2 separate regions of the Homo sapiens genome follow, and region 2 is linked to region 1. Evidence: fine-mapped expression QTL. A gene starts in region 1. The other region holds a variant in brackets. All regions are shown on one strand. Distances are between the middles of the regions.

Evidence for each region. PIP is the estimated chance that this variant, and not a neighbour inherited with it, causes the effect.
Region 2: its variant is fine-mapped to the expression of MIR4422HG in T cells (GENCORD, PIP 0.95).

Annotation. Positions count from the first base shown.
Region 1 is chr1:55,213,088-55,221,087 of GRCh38, forward strand. MIR4422HG (MIR4422 host gene) reads left to right here and starts at 4,774. Exons shown (of 2, transcript NR_146283.1): 1 at 4,774-4,845. It overlaps USP24 (ubiquitin specific peptidase 24), which reads right to left and starts at 2,277. Exons shown (of 68, transcript NM_015306.3): 1 at 1,703-2,277. The coding sequence starts at 2,026. LOC100507634 (a long non-coding RNA gene) reads left to right here and starts at 2,321. Exons shown (of 1, transcript NR_038320.1): 1 at 2,321-4,368. RefSeq lists an enhancer at 1,165-1,224 and silencers at 1,685-1,874, 1,945-2,454.
Region 2 is chr1:55,053,745-55,061,744 of GRCh38, forward strand. It overlaps PCSK9 (proprotein convertase subtilisin/kexin type 9), which reads left to right. Exons shown (of 12, transcript NM_174936.4): 6 at 2,249-2,445; 7 at 3,587-3,770; 8 at 4,292-4,465; 9 at 4,755-4,903; 10 at 5,742-5,919; 11 at 7,631-7,812. Among named protein-coding and RNA genes, the nearest start is that of PCSK9, 18 kb to the left of the region's middle. The variant C/CCGGT (reference allele first, on the strand shown) is at 3,324.

The sequences.
Region 1 (8,000 bases):
GGATACACTGAGCTTTGCAGAGTTATACAAACACCTTCTGAAAAAGCAACGGCTTTCTTCTTGATTTCAAAACTGGGTCAAAAACTAGAAGGAACGAGGGAGGAGTGATAGGAACTGCCAATGAGAAGCTGATTTCTTAAAATGACTTAAGTATGGTTACTCAATTATATGGGAATTTAAAAAAATTCCCAAACTAGGAATAGTAACAATCTTTATTTCCATATACTAGTCAACGATACAGCTAAGTTAGTGGGTTACAGAGGGCAATCTAGCAACTGTGTCTAAGTGTGGAAGCCAAAGAAATCTTGTGCAGAAACCTGTTCTTTTTAAGTGCCACCTTCTTGTTCAAGCTACTTCAGCCCGAGGAACTGTTGCAAAAGCATACAATTAAAAGGATATAACACTGCTCAGGAAAAAGTGTTTCAAAAGGCTTAGCTTCACTAAGCTTAATTCTTCATTAAGAACGAACCAAATTCGTATCTCTACCTAATAACGCAATCCCAATAATTTGAGATCTGTGCTTTTCTGTGGTCAGGCCAAGCTGCTCTACTGGCCCCTGAAATGAACTACCCAACGAATCTGACCAAAATTCCTGCCATGAGCTACTATGTTTCTGCAAAGTAATTATTCAAAAGCACTGCTGCTTCTGGTCGATCTTTTTTCTTTATTATAGAAGAGTCCGTTTTCTTCCCCCACGTTCCTTGCTCACACCCCAAACTAAACAGGCATAGTCTTCTCCACCTAGACTTGAGGTCTCTGATCAAAGCCATTAGCCTCAAGACTCCTCCTCCACCCCCACTGCGCTCCCACCCTGTTCCGCGCCCCTCTGCATAGCACCCTCAGTATGACTACCATCTCTTTCCCCGGTCTAATTTTCTCTCATTTCTGACCTTATCGATGACCAGTACTCCCTCTTTACCCAGACCTGGTGCCAGCTCTATCTTCCAATTCCAGTCCCCATCCCTGCCTAGACCCTCCTCAGCTCCCACCCCTGCCCAGGCCTCCCACCTCTGCCCTCTCAGTGCAATCCCCACTGCTCTCATACCTGATTTTATTCAAGTCCTCATTCCTGGCCGCGGCCCCTTCCCTCTTCATTTTAAATCCTACTCAATGCCCCCCCTTTCCGACCCTTGGCTAAAACCCCAACCTCACTCCTAACCCCAACAGTTTTCCTGTGATCCTGTCAAAGACCACTACTCTGGCCGGCCCACACCGCTTTTTCTGACTCTGAGCCTGGTGCCTCCGCCAATCCTTCACTGAAACCTCGTGCCACAAAATCTCCGACCTAGCCTAGTGCACTAGTACCCCATTTCCGACCCCCTACTGCACGCATCCTTCCCACTATATGCTCAAGTGTCTGTCCTCCCATCTCGGATGATAGCCCTGGAGCCTCCTCCCCATCGTCGGCGTGCATAGCCGGAAGCCTAAGGGACCCCTCCTCACCCCAACCCACAGCTCCGCTGCGCATCCCTAATTCCCTTTCACACGCCTCTCCTATGGGTCCCTCTCCCCACTTACCCCCAATCAAGTGACTTCGGTTCCCAACTGGAGCCTGGGGCTTCTCTCTCTCTCTCCGCCCCGCCCCCACTAAAGCCCCAGTCGAATGCCCTCTCTCCCCACACCAAGCCCAGCGGGGTGTGTCCCCTCCCAGGAACTCCAGCCCAGTGGCTTCCCACAGAGGTCTGGGGTTGCCCCTCCTCACCTCCGCGTCCACCACCTCGTGGTAGGCGGGCGGGGGGTCGAAGCCGCCCCCGCCTCCGGTGCTCCCGCCGCGGGAGGGGCCGCCGCCGCCGCCGTCACCTCCGCCGTCGCCCCGCGGGCCCCCGCCGGGCCCGGGGCTGGGGCCACCGCCGCTGTCCATGGGCTCGTAGCCGCCGTAGTCGAGGCCCGGCCGCTCGTTGGTGAGCAGTGCCACGGCCTCGTTAATGTCGTTCTTGGCCAGGCGCAGGGCCTTGCGGATGGTGGCGGGGTCTGAGAAGCCCATGCACAGCAGCGTGGTCATGTGCTGCTCCTCCTCCGATTCCATGGCTTGGGCCTCCTGGCCGCCCCGGCCAGCGCACGGCGAAGCTACGGGTCCCGGGCCTGGCGGGCCGCGCGGCGCACCCTCCGCGCCGCCTCCGCGCCCAGGTTGGCCCCTGCGTTCCTGCCCCGGGTGCTCCGCAGCAGCCGGGCCAGGCTGGGTGCGGGCTTGGGTCCTGCGAGCCGAGCTAGTGCGGTGAGGCGCTCAGGCGCGGCTGCGGCCCGGCCCAGCCCTGCGCGCCGCCATGTTGGCCTCCTCCCCCTCCGCCTCCTCCTCCCCGGGCGGCGGGGCCGCGCCTCGGCTCCCGGAAGCGGCACGGGAGGCGACCGTGCTCGCCGTTGGCAGGCTAGGGTTGGCGGCGGCGTATTCTGTTTGTTTTAAACGAAGGAGCGGAGGGAGGGGCCGCGCCGCGGAGCGTGCCTAAGGTGAAAGGGCTGCCGTGCAGCCAGGCAGAGGCGAGGAAGGCTTCTCCATCGTCGCCACCGCCCGCCTGTTTCGCCGGCAACAGGTTCCCCCGGGACGGGAGGGGCCGCAGCGCCGCGCAGCTCGCAGCGCTGAACGTCGCGGAAATCCCTTGGCCGGCCGAGCCTCCGCAGCCGCGACCCGGCTTCTCTCCGTCCGAGTCCCCCGAGCCTCTCCGAACCCCCGTTGGACTTCCCCTCCCTGGCCGGCGCCGCCCGACCCGCTCCCCCATCCTAGAGGGAATTCCCTGCGCCGCGGCTGTGAGGCACCTCCACCCCGGCCTGAAATGCACCGCAGTCCTGAAGGAAATCCACCCTCATCCCACGCAGATTCACCCGCAACGCTGCCTGAATACGCCTCGCTGCCCACAGAAATTCCTGCCCAAACCAGACGCGTGGACCACCCAAGACGAAATTCACACTCGACCCTAGCCCCGCCAGCCCTTGCCGAAATCACCCTAAACCCGTTGAAATTAATTCCCAGCTGTCCGAATTTTCCTTCCAACATTAACTGACTACCTGTCTCCGCCAAGCTGACTGAACTCTACCGAACTCTTACCCTGAAAGCCCCTGAGAGTCCAAAATATATTTTTCCAGCCCGAAATCTAAATCCCAGTTCTCTGTATGAAAACCTCCAGAAACCCAGACTCTTACTTCCTTCGGCCACGGACTCGTTCGAACATCGTGGACATCACCTTCCCACATTTTTACCGCAGTCTTTGGCTCCGATTCTTTGTCCCTGCCTCTTGGGCAGCATCCTATCCCTGTTTCTTTCCACCTTTGAGGATTCCTCTACCTCTTTAAAGGCCTGCTTTCTTTGCTTTCTCTTCTCACCTTTGGCATTGGCACACTGGGGTCATATCTTTAGTTCCCTTGACTCCACCATCTAAGCCAAGGGTGTCCAATCTTTTGGCTTCCCTGGGCTACATTGGAAGGAGAAAAATTGTCTTGGACCACATATAAAATATTCTAACGCTAATGGTAGCTGATGAAACTTTTAAAAAATCTCATCATGTTTTAAGAAGTTTACGAATTTGTGCTGAGCCGCATTCAAAGCCGTCCTGGGCCTAAGTCCTTGCTATTTTTCCTCTTCAATTTCCTTCAATCCATAGTTCTCTAGGTTATTTTCCCACCCTTTCCCAAGATTCGGATATCCCTTCATTCTTGCTGAGTTCATCTCCTATGCCTATTCCTACATACTTGCTGAGTTCATCTTCTAATGTCCTCATCCTGGTTTCTTCCTGAACCTGAAATCCAGCTAACCTTACTTTTTCATCCCATCAAACCCCTGCTGTTGCCAGCCCAGCACTCACGAAGATCTTTACATACACCAAATATTAAATTAGGGCCGGTACCTAGACATTGTCTCTGCACTCTGCTGGCATATTTTCCCCTGGACCACGAACCCTTCGTACCTAGTAACTTGCCACCTGTGTTTATAAATACCAGCAATTTGATTTACAGGGTGAATTTGTCACTATTGTTTACTTTTAAATGAAGTTACTGTATTTGTTGTTTCCATTAAAGGCGACATTATAAAGCCTAGGCCTCATATCCAAAGCAAATAAAGTCTCAATTTTTTAATTAAAAGTAACAAAAGGAAACCTCACACTTCTGAACAACAATGACAAGAAGGAATGCCTATAATTGGTTTGGGTCACAATGTACATATTGAAATAAAATTTTTATTAAGTATCAACTTCCAGGTACACAATGAAGTTTTAAATGTTTATCTGTGACATATGAAGAACAAAGCAATCTAAACTGATGTAAGCAGGCTGTCATAAGGTACATGCTGAGGAATTTATTCAACAAATTGAATAAATTTATTCAATAAATAAATAATTATTCAATAAATAATATATTTAATAAATTTAATAAATAGAATAAAAATGATTCTATTTACTGGGTGCCAGGTACTATTCTTCGCACAGACAAAAATTAGATGATGGCAAAGTGAGGGCATTCAATTCTGCCCTGTGTTTGAAGAGTTAATTACTAAGAAATGAATTACAAGGAGAGAGGAAGTAACAAGTAACAAAAAAATTGTTTGCCACTAAAATTTGAGGTAGAACCTAAAAGGTCATGAAAGAGCCGACTGAATCAGATGGCACGTTAAAAGACTCATCAACGGTGGCAGGTTTATAGAACATGACAGAGGAAGCTGTGCTTAGCTGAGAAGAGGAAGCAGAGAAGGAAGCAGAGAAAAACAAAGTCTGTGATAAAAACTGGAAAGGAGCCACAAAAGGCCACAAAAAACAAGGAAGTCCATTTTGGAACCGGATCCTGGAGTGACTGAAAAGGCAGAGTGTCATTTGAGGATGCGAGTAGTATAATCATACTTTTTTGCATGGAAGAAAGCAAGTGAGTACTTTAAACTGTGGAATTGGGATAGCAGGGGTGGGGCCTATGATATGAATATTCATACTTTTCATTTACATTTTTATTTTTATTGCAGTAAAATCTAGAAAATGTTGAGAGGATTTTTAAAAATTTAAATTACATTCAATTCCCATACATCTTTCTCTAGAAAGGTTCTAAAGGAAAAGAAAAAAATAGCTACATAGAGAAGTAAGGTATGATGAACTATCTTGAAGACTGAGGGTTTTCTACTGTTAATAAGTAAGTTTTCAAATTATAGATTGAATATCTACTTTGAGCCAGGCTGAGGACTAGGGAGACAATTGTGAGAAAAACATTACACAATTTCTACCCCTTTGGATCTTACTGTCTATAATAAAGGGAAATAGACAAATAATAGTCATAAAGCATGATAGACGCTTTGATGGGGGAATTTCAGGATATAAGGGGCAAATTTCTGCCCTCTGTGGGGGTAATTACCAAGTCTAGGAAAACTGAAAATTTTCCCAGAGAAGACGACGTTCAAACTATAATCTGACGTAAGGTTGGAAAGCCAGGAAAAGGAATATGAAATGAAGGGAGAAAGTTCCAAAGAACGGGAACAACATGTGCAAAGGTCCTGTTGTGGGTGAGAATAAAGCAATTTGGAGGAATTAAAAGCCAGTGGAGTATAGAATTCTAGAGAGATATGGATTGAGCATTCCTAACCTGAAATCTGAAATGCTCCAAAATCTGAAAAAAAAAAGTATTTTCTTATTCTTTTTTGTCTTCTTATTAAGAGATGGGGTTTCACCATGTTGCTCAGGCTGGTCTCAAACTCCTGAGCTCAAGTGATCTTCTCACCTCGGCCTCCCAAAGTGCTGGGATAACAGGCATGTGTGAGCCACTGCACCCAGCCCAAAATTTGAATTTTTTTTTTTTTTTTTTTTGGAGACAGAGTCTCACTCTGTCACCCAGGCTGGAGTGCAGTGGCACCATCTCGGCTCACTGCAACCTCTGCTGCAGGTTCAAGCAATTCTCCTGTCTCAGCCTCCTGAGTAGCTGGGATTACAGGCATCTGCCACCATGTCCAACTAATTTTTGTATTTTTAGTAGAGGCGAGGTTTCACCATGTTGGCCAGGCTGGTCTCAAGCTCCTGACCTCAAGTGATCTGCCTCCCTTGGCCTACCAAAATGCTGAGATTACAGGTGTGAGCCACCATGCCCAGCCCCCAAAATTTGAAAACTTGAGTGGTGACGTGATGCCACAAGTGGAGAACTCTGCACTTGACTTCATGTGATGGATTGCAGACAAAACATGGGTAGAAACTGAAAGCCTGCCATTGTTTGTTATTGTTGTTGTTTAACAGCTAATATAGGTATTCTGGGGATGATACTGCCCTATTTAGGTACCCTGAACACATTATTTTTTCACTGTATTAAGGGTATGCCATACTTTTTACTGTTAAGTACTTAAGTGTGAATGGTATAAGAAAAAAATTGCTTATGGGTAGCATATATATTCAGAGACAGGAATGATGATGATGCCAGACAATCACAGATTGTCCATATCAGTAGCTCACATGGTGACACCTCTGCTTTCTGATGGTTCAATGTATACAAACTTTGTTTCATGCATAAAATTAAAAATTTGTATTAGGTCGGTGCAAAAGTAATTGAGGTTTTGCCTTTAAAAGCAATGGCAAAAACTTCAATTACTTTTGCATCGACCTAGTATAAAATTATCTTCAGGCAGGGAGTGATAGCTCACACCTGTAATTCCAGCAGTTTGAAAGGCCAAGGCAGGCAGATCACCTGAGGTCAGGACTTCGAGACAACCCTGGCCAGTATGGTGAAACCTTGTCTCTGCTAAAAATACAAAAAATTAGCCAGGCATGGTGGTGGGCGCCTGTAATCCCAGCTATTTGGGAGGCTGAGGTAGGAGAATCGCTTGAACCCAGGAGATGGAAGTTGCAGTGAGCTAAGATTGCACCATTGCACTCCAGCCTGAGCAACAAGAGTGAAACTCCATCTGAAAAAAAAAAAATTAGCTGGGCGTGGTGGCATACACTTGTGAGCTCAGCTACACGGGAGCTGAGGCAGGATAATTGCTTGAACCCAGGAGGTGAAGGTTGCAGTGAGCTGAGATTGCTCCACTGTACTCCAGCCTGGGCGACAGAGGGAGACTCCGTCTCAATCAATCAATCAATCAATCAGTCAATACAATTATCTTCAGCTTAGGTGTATAAGGTGTGTTTAAAGGCTGGGCGCAGTGGCTCATGCCTGTAATCCCAGCACTTTGGGAGGCCAAGACAGGTGGATCACAAGGTCAGCAGATCAAGACCATCCTGGCTAACATGGTGAAACCCCGTCTCTACTAAAAATACCAAAAAAAAATTAGCCAACATGGTGGCACGCACCTGTAGTCCCAGCTACTCGAGAGGCTGAGGCAGGAGAATCGCTTGAACCTGGAAGGCGGAGGTTGCAGTGAGCCAAGATCACGCCACTGCACTCCATCCTGGGCGACAGAGTGAGACTCTGTCTAAGAAATAAATAAGTAAATAAATAAAAATAAGATTTGTATAAAACAAATGACTTTTGTGTTTATACTTGGGTCTCATTCCTAAGGTATCTCATTCTGTATACTCAAATATTCCAAAATCCAAAAATGTCCAAAATCTGAAAAACTTGTGGTCCCAAACATTTCAGATGAGAGATACTCAACATGTAGTAGTGAGAAAAGAAGCTAGGAAGGTGGACAGACACCAGTTCCAAGAGGGCCGCTCAAACTGTAATAAGGAAATTGAACTTTATTCTGAGGGAATGAGAAGTCACAGTAACATTTATGCAGAGGACGGAAGTGATGCTACTTAAACTGTAGAAAGATCAACCTAACTGCAGTTTGGAGAATGGTTTAGAAGGGAGGAAAAGTGAAGGTGGAGAACCCAGTAAGGAGACAAAACCAATTAGCCTTCCTAGGTAACCACTTTGGAATGAAAAGTTGAATGAAAAGTTGAGTTTTGTTTTCTTATGCAGTGTACAATTTTTGTCTTTTGTCTTGCCTTGAAGCAGTTTTAGTGTGATATGTCTAGATGTGGCTTTCTTTATATTTATCTTAATGGAGTTTGTAGAATTTGTTGAATATGTGTTTTGAGGTCTTTCATTAGCTTGGAAAATTC
Region 2 (8,000 bases), 160 kb before region 1:
CTTCTGCCCCATCAGGTGACCCCTTGTGCCTGTCCCACCCCTTTATTGACTGACCTCGGCTCAGTCAGGTCAGTTCCTGAAGGTCAGTGTGTGGAGGGGAGGCTGTTCTTTCCCAGAAAGGCCTTCCCCAGGCCTGGTGCTCTGGCCTCTGGAGGACTTCCTGGAGAAGTCCCTTCTTTGGGGTCCCAGTCAGTGTATGGGAAGCCCTTATTGCATGACCTGGCACGGGGCAGGGGCTCAACAGTCACTATTGCCTTCCTTGCCACTGCCATTTCCTCCTCTGTAAGCAGGTGATTGTGTGTCCAGTCTGAGCACAGAGATAAGCACACAGCAGGTGCTTAATAACTAGCAGCTGTAGGCTGGGCGCGGTGGCTCATGCCTGTAATCCCAGCACTTTGGGAGGCCGAGGTGGGCAGATCACCTGAGGTCAGGAGTTCGAGACCAGCCTGTTCAACATGGTGAAACCCCGTCTCTACTAAAAATACAAAAATTAGCCAGGCATGGTGGTGGGTGTCTGTATCCCAGCTACTTGGGAGGCTAAGGCAGGAGAATCGCTTGAACCCAGGAGGTGGAGGTTGCAGTGAGCTGAGATCGTGCCACTGCAATCCAGCCTGAGTGATAGAGCGAGATTCCATCTCAAAAATAAATAAGTAAATAACTAGCAGCTGTAAATGTGGCTGTTGTTCTTCACCTCCACACTCAGTGCCACTCCACTCCCTCCCTCCGTGGTGTGAGGGGCCTCACTAGCTGTCTCCTAGGAGGAGCATGGCTGTGAGATTCCAGCTCCATCCTTGGCCACGGCTCCTGGAGACATCTTAGAGGCCAGGATCCAGAAGGCTCCCACACCTCATTTGACAGGGGAGAAGCTGTCAGTTCCAGGTCCCCTTGCACATCAGGGCCAGAGCTGCGTTAGGCCTCCAGTCTCCAGGCCACTGGGCCAGAGCTCACAGGCTGGCAGAGGGTTAGAACTGTTACTGGTGGCTGGGTGCAGTGGCTCACGCCTGTAATCTTAGCACTTTGGGAGGGCAAGGCGGGAGGATCATGAGGTCAGGACATCGAGACCATCCTTGCTAACACGGTGAAGCCCCGTCTCTACTAAAACTACAAAAAATTAGCCGGGCGTGGTGGCAGGCGCCTGTAGTCCCAGCTACTCAGGAGGCTGAGGCAGGAGAATGGCGTGAACCCGGGAGGCGGAGCTTGCAGTGAGCCGAGATTGCGCCACTGCACTCCAGCCTGGGCAATAGAGCGAGACTCCGTCTGGAAAGAAAAAAAAAAAAAAGAGCTGTTACTGTTGACAGTAGCATGAGGTAGACCATGGCCTGCACCAAAATGGGGGAGTGGAGTGCCACTGAGGCCAGAAGGAACCACACCCTCAAGGGTGGGGAGTTATGGTATGGGGGGTCCTAGGCATGGAGTCTTTTAATTCTTTAGACAATCCTGGGAGCAACTGTCCCTGTTTCACAGAGGGCGGGGCCACACAGCTGGTGAGTGGGCAGCCAAGACTCTGTTCAAGTTTGTGTGGGTCCAACACTTGCGGCCACGGTGGAGGGGCATCTGAGCCAGGCCTCAGAGAGTGGCGGGGGAAGTTGGGTGGGGAAGTGTGCCCTTCTCATTCCTCTGAGGCTCATCCTCTTGGTGCCTCTCTTTCATGGAAAGGGATAATAAGGTTATTGTGAGGATCCCCTGAGTTCGTATATTCAGACGCTTAGACAGAGCCAGGCACAGAGAAGGGCCCGGGGTTGGCTAGTTTGATTGCTGGTGTAATTGCTAATATCTTCCAGTTTGTATTGGTCAAGGTTCTGCAGAGAAGCAGAACCAGTAGGATGTATATATTAAGAGTTTCAAGCTCATGTGACCGTGCGGGCTGGCAAGTCTGAAATCCGCAGGGCAGGCCAGGCAGGCTGGCAATTCCTGCAGAATTTGATGTTGCAATACTGAGTCCTAAGGCAGTCCTGGGGCAGAATTCCTTCTTCCCTGGGAGGCCTCAGTCTGTTCTCTTAAGGCCTTCAACTGATTAAATGAGGCCTGCCCAAGTTATAGAGAGTAACCTGCCTTACTCCGTCTTCTGATTTAAATGTTAGTCACATCTAAAAAATATTTTCGCAGCAGCATTTCCACTGGCTTTTGACCAAACATCAGGCCACAAAGTTGATCCCCAAAATTAACCATCACTCTGTGCCTGTAAGGGAGGGGCTGGGAAAGGGGAGCAGGTCTCCCCAAGGGGTGACCTTGGCTTTGTTCCTCCCAGGCCTGGAGTTTATTCGGAAAAGCCAGCTGGTCCAGCCTGTGGGGCCACTGGTGGTGCTGCTGCCCCTGGCGGGTGGGTACAGCCGCGTCCTCAACGCCGCCTGCCAGCGCCTGGCGAGGGCTGGGGTCGTGCTGGTCACCGCTGCCGGCAACTTCCGGGACGATGCCTGCCTCTACTCCCCAGCCTCAGCTCCCGAGGTAGGTGCTGGGGCTGCTGCCCCAAGGCGCGGGTAGGGGGCGGAGGGCGGAGGGCGGAGGGAGGGCGGGCGGGCAGGCGGGCTTCTTGTGGCACGTGGGCTTCTTGTGGCACGTTCCTGGAGGCCGAACCCTTCTGGCTTTGGAAGGAGTCGTCAGAGACCCCCGCCATGCGGGAGGCTGGGGAGGAAGGGGCTCGAAACCTCCATCATCGCAGAGTCTGAATAGCAGTGGCCCCGCCATGCGCCCACGTAGCGGCGCCTACGTAGCCACGCCCCCACACCCCGTCCTGGCCACTCTCCCTCCTGAAGGTCTTCTGGTACCCGCCCCCTCCCCATCTCCATCCCCAGGCCCTGCGTCCTCTGCCCAATACTCTTTGGGCCTCCCTGTTGTCCAGCTCTCTCCGCGGCTCCATGACTGACAACTTGAGCAAGGCTAATGTGAATGGGAGCGGTTGAGGGCTCAGACCTCTCACCCGAGGAACATCCACAGAGTGTGCCGCATGCCCGGTGCAGTGTGGCTGCGGGGACACAGACACGGAGCCTCGGCCCTGAGGAGCTGGGGGGCAGTGACCGTCCCTCCTCTGACCCACCACTCCTCCAGTGTCAGGACACTGCGGGTATCTAGGGGAAGGAATCTTGTTCCACTTCAAGTCTGGAACTTCAAGTCTGTGTGTGTGCGTGCGCGCGCGCGCGTTGGGGGTGGGGGTTGCAGAGCAGATGCGTACCTGACAGCGGTAACCTAGGTCCCCCCTGGCCTATCAAGGCTTCCCTGGCGGCCGAATTTAAAGGCATCAAGCAAACAAAGCCCAACACATCTCTGCCTTGTCCTCTCAGTTTCCCCCCGTGGCACTTAGAACCACTTGATACACCGAATAGTTT[C/CCGGT]CTATCTCCCCCACTAGGATGTAAACTCCACAGGGGCATTGGGAATGCTGCCTGGCTATGGTAGGGACAGAGGGGAGCACCAGGGCGGGGCAGGGGTGCCAGAGTTCTGCCTGGGCAGTCAGATTTTCCTTAGGAGGGGACATTTGAGTGGGACCCAAACAGGTGTATAGCAGTTGTCCAGCCCAGCTGGCAAGGCCTGAGTCTGCCTCTGCAACCCCTCTCTTGGGCTCCTTTCTCTGCCACCCACCTCCTCACCTTTCCAGGTCATCACAGTTGGGGCCACCAATGCCCAAGACCAGCCGGTGACCCTGGGGACTTTGGGGACCAACTTTGGCCGCTGTGTGGACCTCTTTGCCCCAGGGGAGGACATCATTGGTGCCTCCAGCGACTGCAGCACCTGCTTTGTGTCACAGAGTGGGACATCACAGGCTGCTGCCCACGTGGCTGGTAAGTCACCACCCCACTGCCTCGGCCACCGTGATGCTAACAGCCCCTTTGGCAGTCAGGGTCTGTGCCGGGACCTCCAGTGCCAGGCTCTGTGCAGGGGGACCAGAGATGAAGTAGGCCTGATGGTGCCTTCAAGGACACTCAGTCTGATGAGGGAGGCGAGTGCACAGAGGAAACACGAGGTCAGGGCTGTATTAGAGGGAGCCCAGAGGAGGCACCTGCCCAGCCCGAGGGTCAGAGAAGGCATCTTGGAGGAGGGACATTTGATCGGGAGCTTGATGGATGAATAGGAGTTCACCTGGCCGATAAGACAGCAACTACCAAGGCTTAGAGGTGTGAGAGGAGGCTGTCTTACCTCACTGAGTAAGGACTGCAGGCGGCTTACCTTCGAGAAGAGAGCTTAGTGTCTGTGTGCACGTGTGTTTGTGTGTATGTGTGTGCGTGTGTGCACTGGCAGGAGTCCCCTGCTGGGGCAGGAGGGCCGGGCCATCACCATCTTTCACCATTCACCCCTGCACCAGGCATTGCAGCCATGATGCTGTCTGCCGAGCCGGAGCTCACCCTGGCCGAGTTGAGGCAGAGACTGATCCACTTCTCTGCCAAAGATGTCATCAATGAGGCCTGGTTCCCTGAGGACCAGCGGGTACTGACCCCCAACCTGGTGGCCGCCCTGCCCCCCAGCACCCATGGGGCAGGTAAGCAGGATGGCAGGGTGGGCAAGTCCAGGCTGGGGCTTGGGAGGTCTGTGTGACCTTGACAGTCTCTCCCTTCTCCCTTGTCTGTGTAAGGAGGATGACGCCACCTTAAATAGGATTAAATGAGAATGGGGCTCTGAAAGGGCTGTGCAATATTTTCATAACGTGTTTTTATAGAGACAGTTGAGTATGTTCTTTAAGCCCTCCTCTCTCCTACCATGAACTAAAGATTTCTGTGGAGGTCCCCTCACTCCCAGCACCCCCTCCTCATCCCAGGCCCTTTTTGCAGGTTGGCAGCTGTTTTGCAGGACTGTATGGTCAGCACACTCGGGGCCTACACGGATGGCCACAGCCGTCGCCCGCTGCGCCCCAGATGAGGAGCTGCTGAGCTGCTCCAGTTTCTCCAGGAGTGGGAAGCGGCGGGGCGAGCGCATGGAGGTGACTGTACCCCTCCTTCGTGTGTGTGTGTGTGTGTGTGTGTGTGTGTGTGTGTGTGTGTGTGTGTGTGTCAGTGCTGGGCCCTCAGGGACCCCCAGCAAGCCCCTCCATCCTCCAGACTCCAGCTCTTCTGTAAGCTTACAGGGCTGGCCAGACCAGGAGTGGGGCACTCCTCACTTCACGCGGCTGGGGGCTGCTGGAGAGAGCCACAGCGGGAAGGGTTTCCTAGAGGCTGCAGGACAGTGCTGGATGGATTTTCAATGCTCACCTGGGTGTGAGCGTGCGGCAGGGCCGCGTGAGGGTCAGCGATCTGCTACTCTGGACTCAGCCATCTCTAGGCCCCTCTCACTCAGGTGCTCCATGGTTCTGGGAGCTGAGAAATCTCAAACCAGCAAAAAAGTGGAATTGATGTTGATGCTACAGGATAGTGCACAGATGCCATCTGGTTGCAGCATTTTGGTGGAAGGGCAGTGCCCAGCTAGGAGAGTGAGGAGGGGCAGGCATTTCTGGCTTGAGGAGATGGGGTCTTAATGCTCGTGTGAGAGGCAGAGTGGGTGGAGTGGAGCTGGCTGGATCCTTGCTTTGGCCTCCTGGATTTCTCTCTATCTCCATTTTGAAACCACTCTGTGTTTGGAAGAACTTTTGAGTATTCAGAGCTGCCCACTGGCAGAACAGTCTTCCTTGGGCAGGAGTGAGCTCCTTGTCCCCAGAAGGCTGGGTCTGGCTGGCCCCTGGCAGGGACACTGATGAGGGTGCTTGAGTTGATCCTGTCTAGTCCCTTTCTGTGTTTTCAAAGCCCATTCTAAAGCAGATTCCCATTTCCGTCTTTGACTCTAAGGCCCAAGGGGGCAAGCTGGTCTGCCGGGCCCACAACGCTTTTGGGGGTGAGGGTGTCTACGCCATTGCCAGGTGCTGCCTGCTACCCCAGGCCAACTGCAGCGTCCACACAGCTCCACCAGCTGAGGCCAGCATGGGGACCCGTGTCCACTGCCACCAACAGGGCCACGTCCTCACAGGTAGGAGGCTGGGCTTGCCCTGGGGTGAGGAGGGGTCTCTTTCTCCTTATGCACCCACTGCCCGCGAGGCTTGGTCCTCACAAGTGTGATCCATGAGACTCAAGCCTGACTTGCAGTTCCATACTCTGGTTCTGCCACTTCCATGCCCTTTGAGCCTGGGCAGGTGACCTTACTTCTCCTCATCTCAGCTTCCTCCTCCATAAGAGGGAAAAAGGTATTACCTGCCTCATTGTGTTGCAAGGAGATGGGCAGCATCTAGGGCACTGGCCTGGAGTATCGCAGGTGCTTTGCCTAAGGTGGTGCAGTCCAGGAGAGGCAGCTCCAGAGAGAGGCCCCCGGCTGGGGCTGAAAGGAGGGCAGACCTCGGTTTGAATTTCACCCTGCCGCTCTATAGCTGTGTGACTTGGGCAAATTACTTAACATCTCTGTATGAGGAAATGATGAGTGCTAAGCACTTAGCTTAGTGCCGGGACAATATAAATTCTAGCTATCGTTACTATTGTTTTCATCACCCGTTGCTTTAAAATCCAGCCTCTGGTATAGGCAACTATTGACGGGCTACCCTGTGTCGAAAACATGCCCAGGCAGGTAGCAGGAAGTCACAGATGGGGACCTCTTGGGGCATCAAGGGATGGTGCCCTGAGGCTGAGCTGTTCTGGTTGGGTGGAGCATGAGAGGTCTGGGAAGACAGTGGGACTCCAGCCTGGAATAAGAGGCTCAGAGTTGATTCTCGTCTGAGCACGTCCAGGGGAACCACTGAGGGTTTGGGAACAGGAGAGTGAGGGTGAGAACCTGGTTCTGGGCACAGCAGGCTGGCATGTAGGATGGATGTTCAGGAAAGATGAGCATAGTCAGGTGGCTGGTGCCCTTGTCCAGGGGAGAGGCTCCGTCAGGTTCAGGGGTCCTGGCTTGGAGGGAAGTCCGCCATGCTCTAATCACGCTCCCCTTTGGAAGTGCTCAGCCGATGAGCTCACAGGCACATGTCAGTTTGAAGTCATGGAATCTGACTCCATGAAGCGCACCTCAAAGAGCACCATTTTGCAGCTAAGGGAACTGCAGGCTGGACATGCTGAGTGGCTGCCCCGAGCCCTTGCAGCTAGGACATAGAGAATGCTAGTAACCACAACCCTACCATGTTCAGAGCACATGCCAGGCTCCATGCTGGGGCTTCGCACGTGTCATCTTCACAGTGTCCCTGTGAGTAGGTGTGGTTTCTCTTTCCATCTTACAAATGAGTAAACAGAGCCTCAGTGTAGCTAAGTAACCACTATTTTAGGTTTCTTAGCCAATGGGTGTGTCTGACTCCTAAGCCCATGGAGGGCATTCTGAGGTGGTTCAGACAGACCCCGGCTTACCCTTGAACTTCTGCCTGCTGGCTGCATAGGGAGGGGCTGGGGGGAGTTTGAGCATCTCAGGCCATAGAGCCCCTGCCTCACTGTCTCCATCTCTGGGTGGAAAGATGGTGTTTTCCCTGAGAAACTAAGGCTCAGAGAGGTTGAATGGCTCTCCCAAGGTCACACAGCTGGTCAGCTGCAGAGTTGAGAACACAGGAGTCCTGGTGCTCAGGCCAGCATCTCTTTTTTTCTTTGAGTTGTTTCTAGGTTTCCTAGCTCTTGCCTCAGACCTTAAAGAGAGAGGGTCTGATGGGGATGGGCACTGGAGACGGAGCATCCCAGCATTTCACATCTGAGCTGGCTTTCCTCTGCCCCAGGCTGCAGCTCCCACTGGGAGGTGGAGGACCTTGGCACCCACAAGCCGCCTGTGCTGAGGCCACGAGGTCAGCCCAACCAGTGCGTGGGCCACAGGGAGGCCAGCATCCACGCTTCCTGCTGCCATGCCCCAGGTCTGGAATGCAAAGTCAAGGAGCATGGAATCCCGGCCCCTCAGGAGCAGGTGAAGAGGCCCGTGAGGCCGGGTGGGTGGGGTGCTGCGTGTCTCTCCTGCACAGCTTTTCTGTGTCAGTTTGTGCCACCACCATACCGCCATGCATCAGGGTGGCGGTTTGCCAGGTAGATGCTGTGGGCAGCTTCCGCCATTGTGTGGACAGCATGTATATGTGTCTCTGTGTGGCTGGGTCTGTT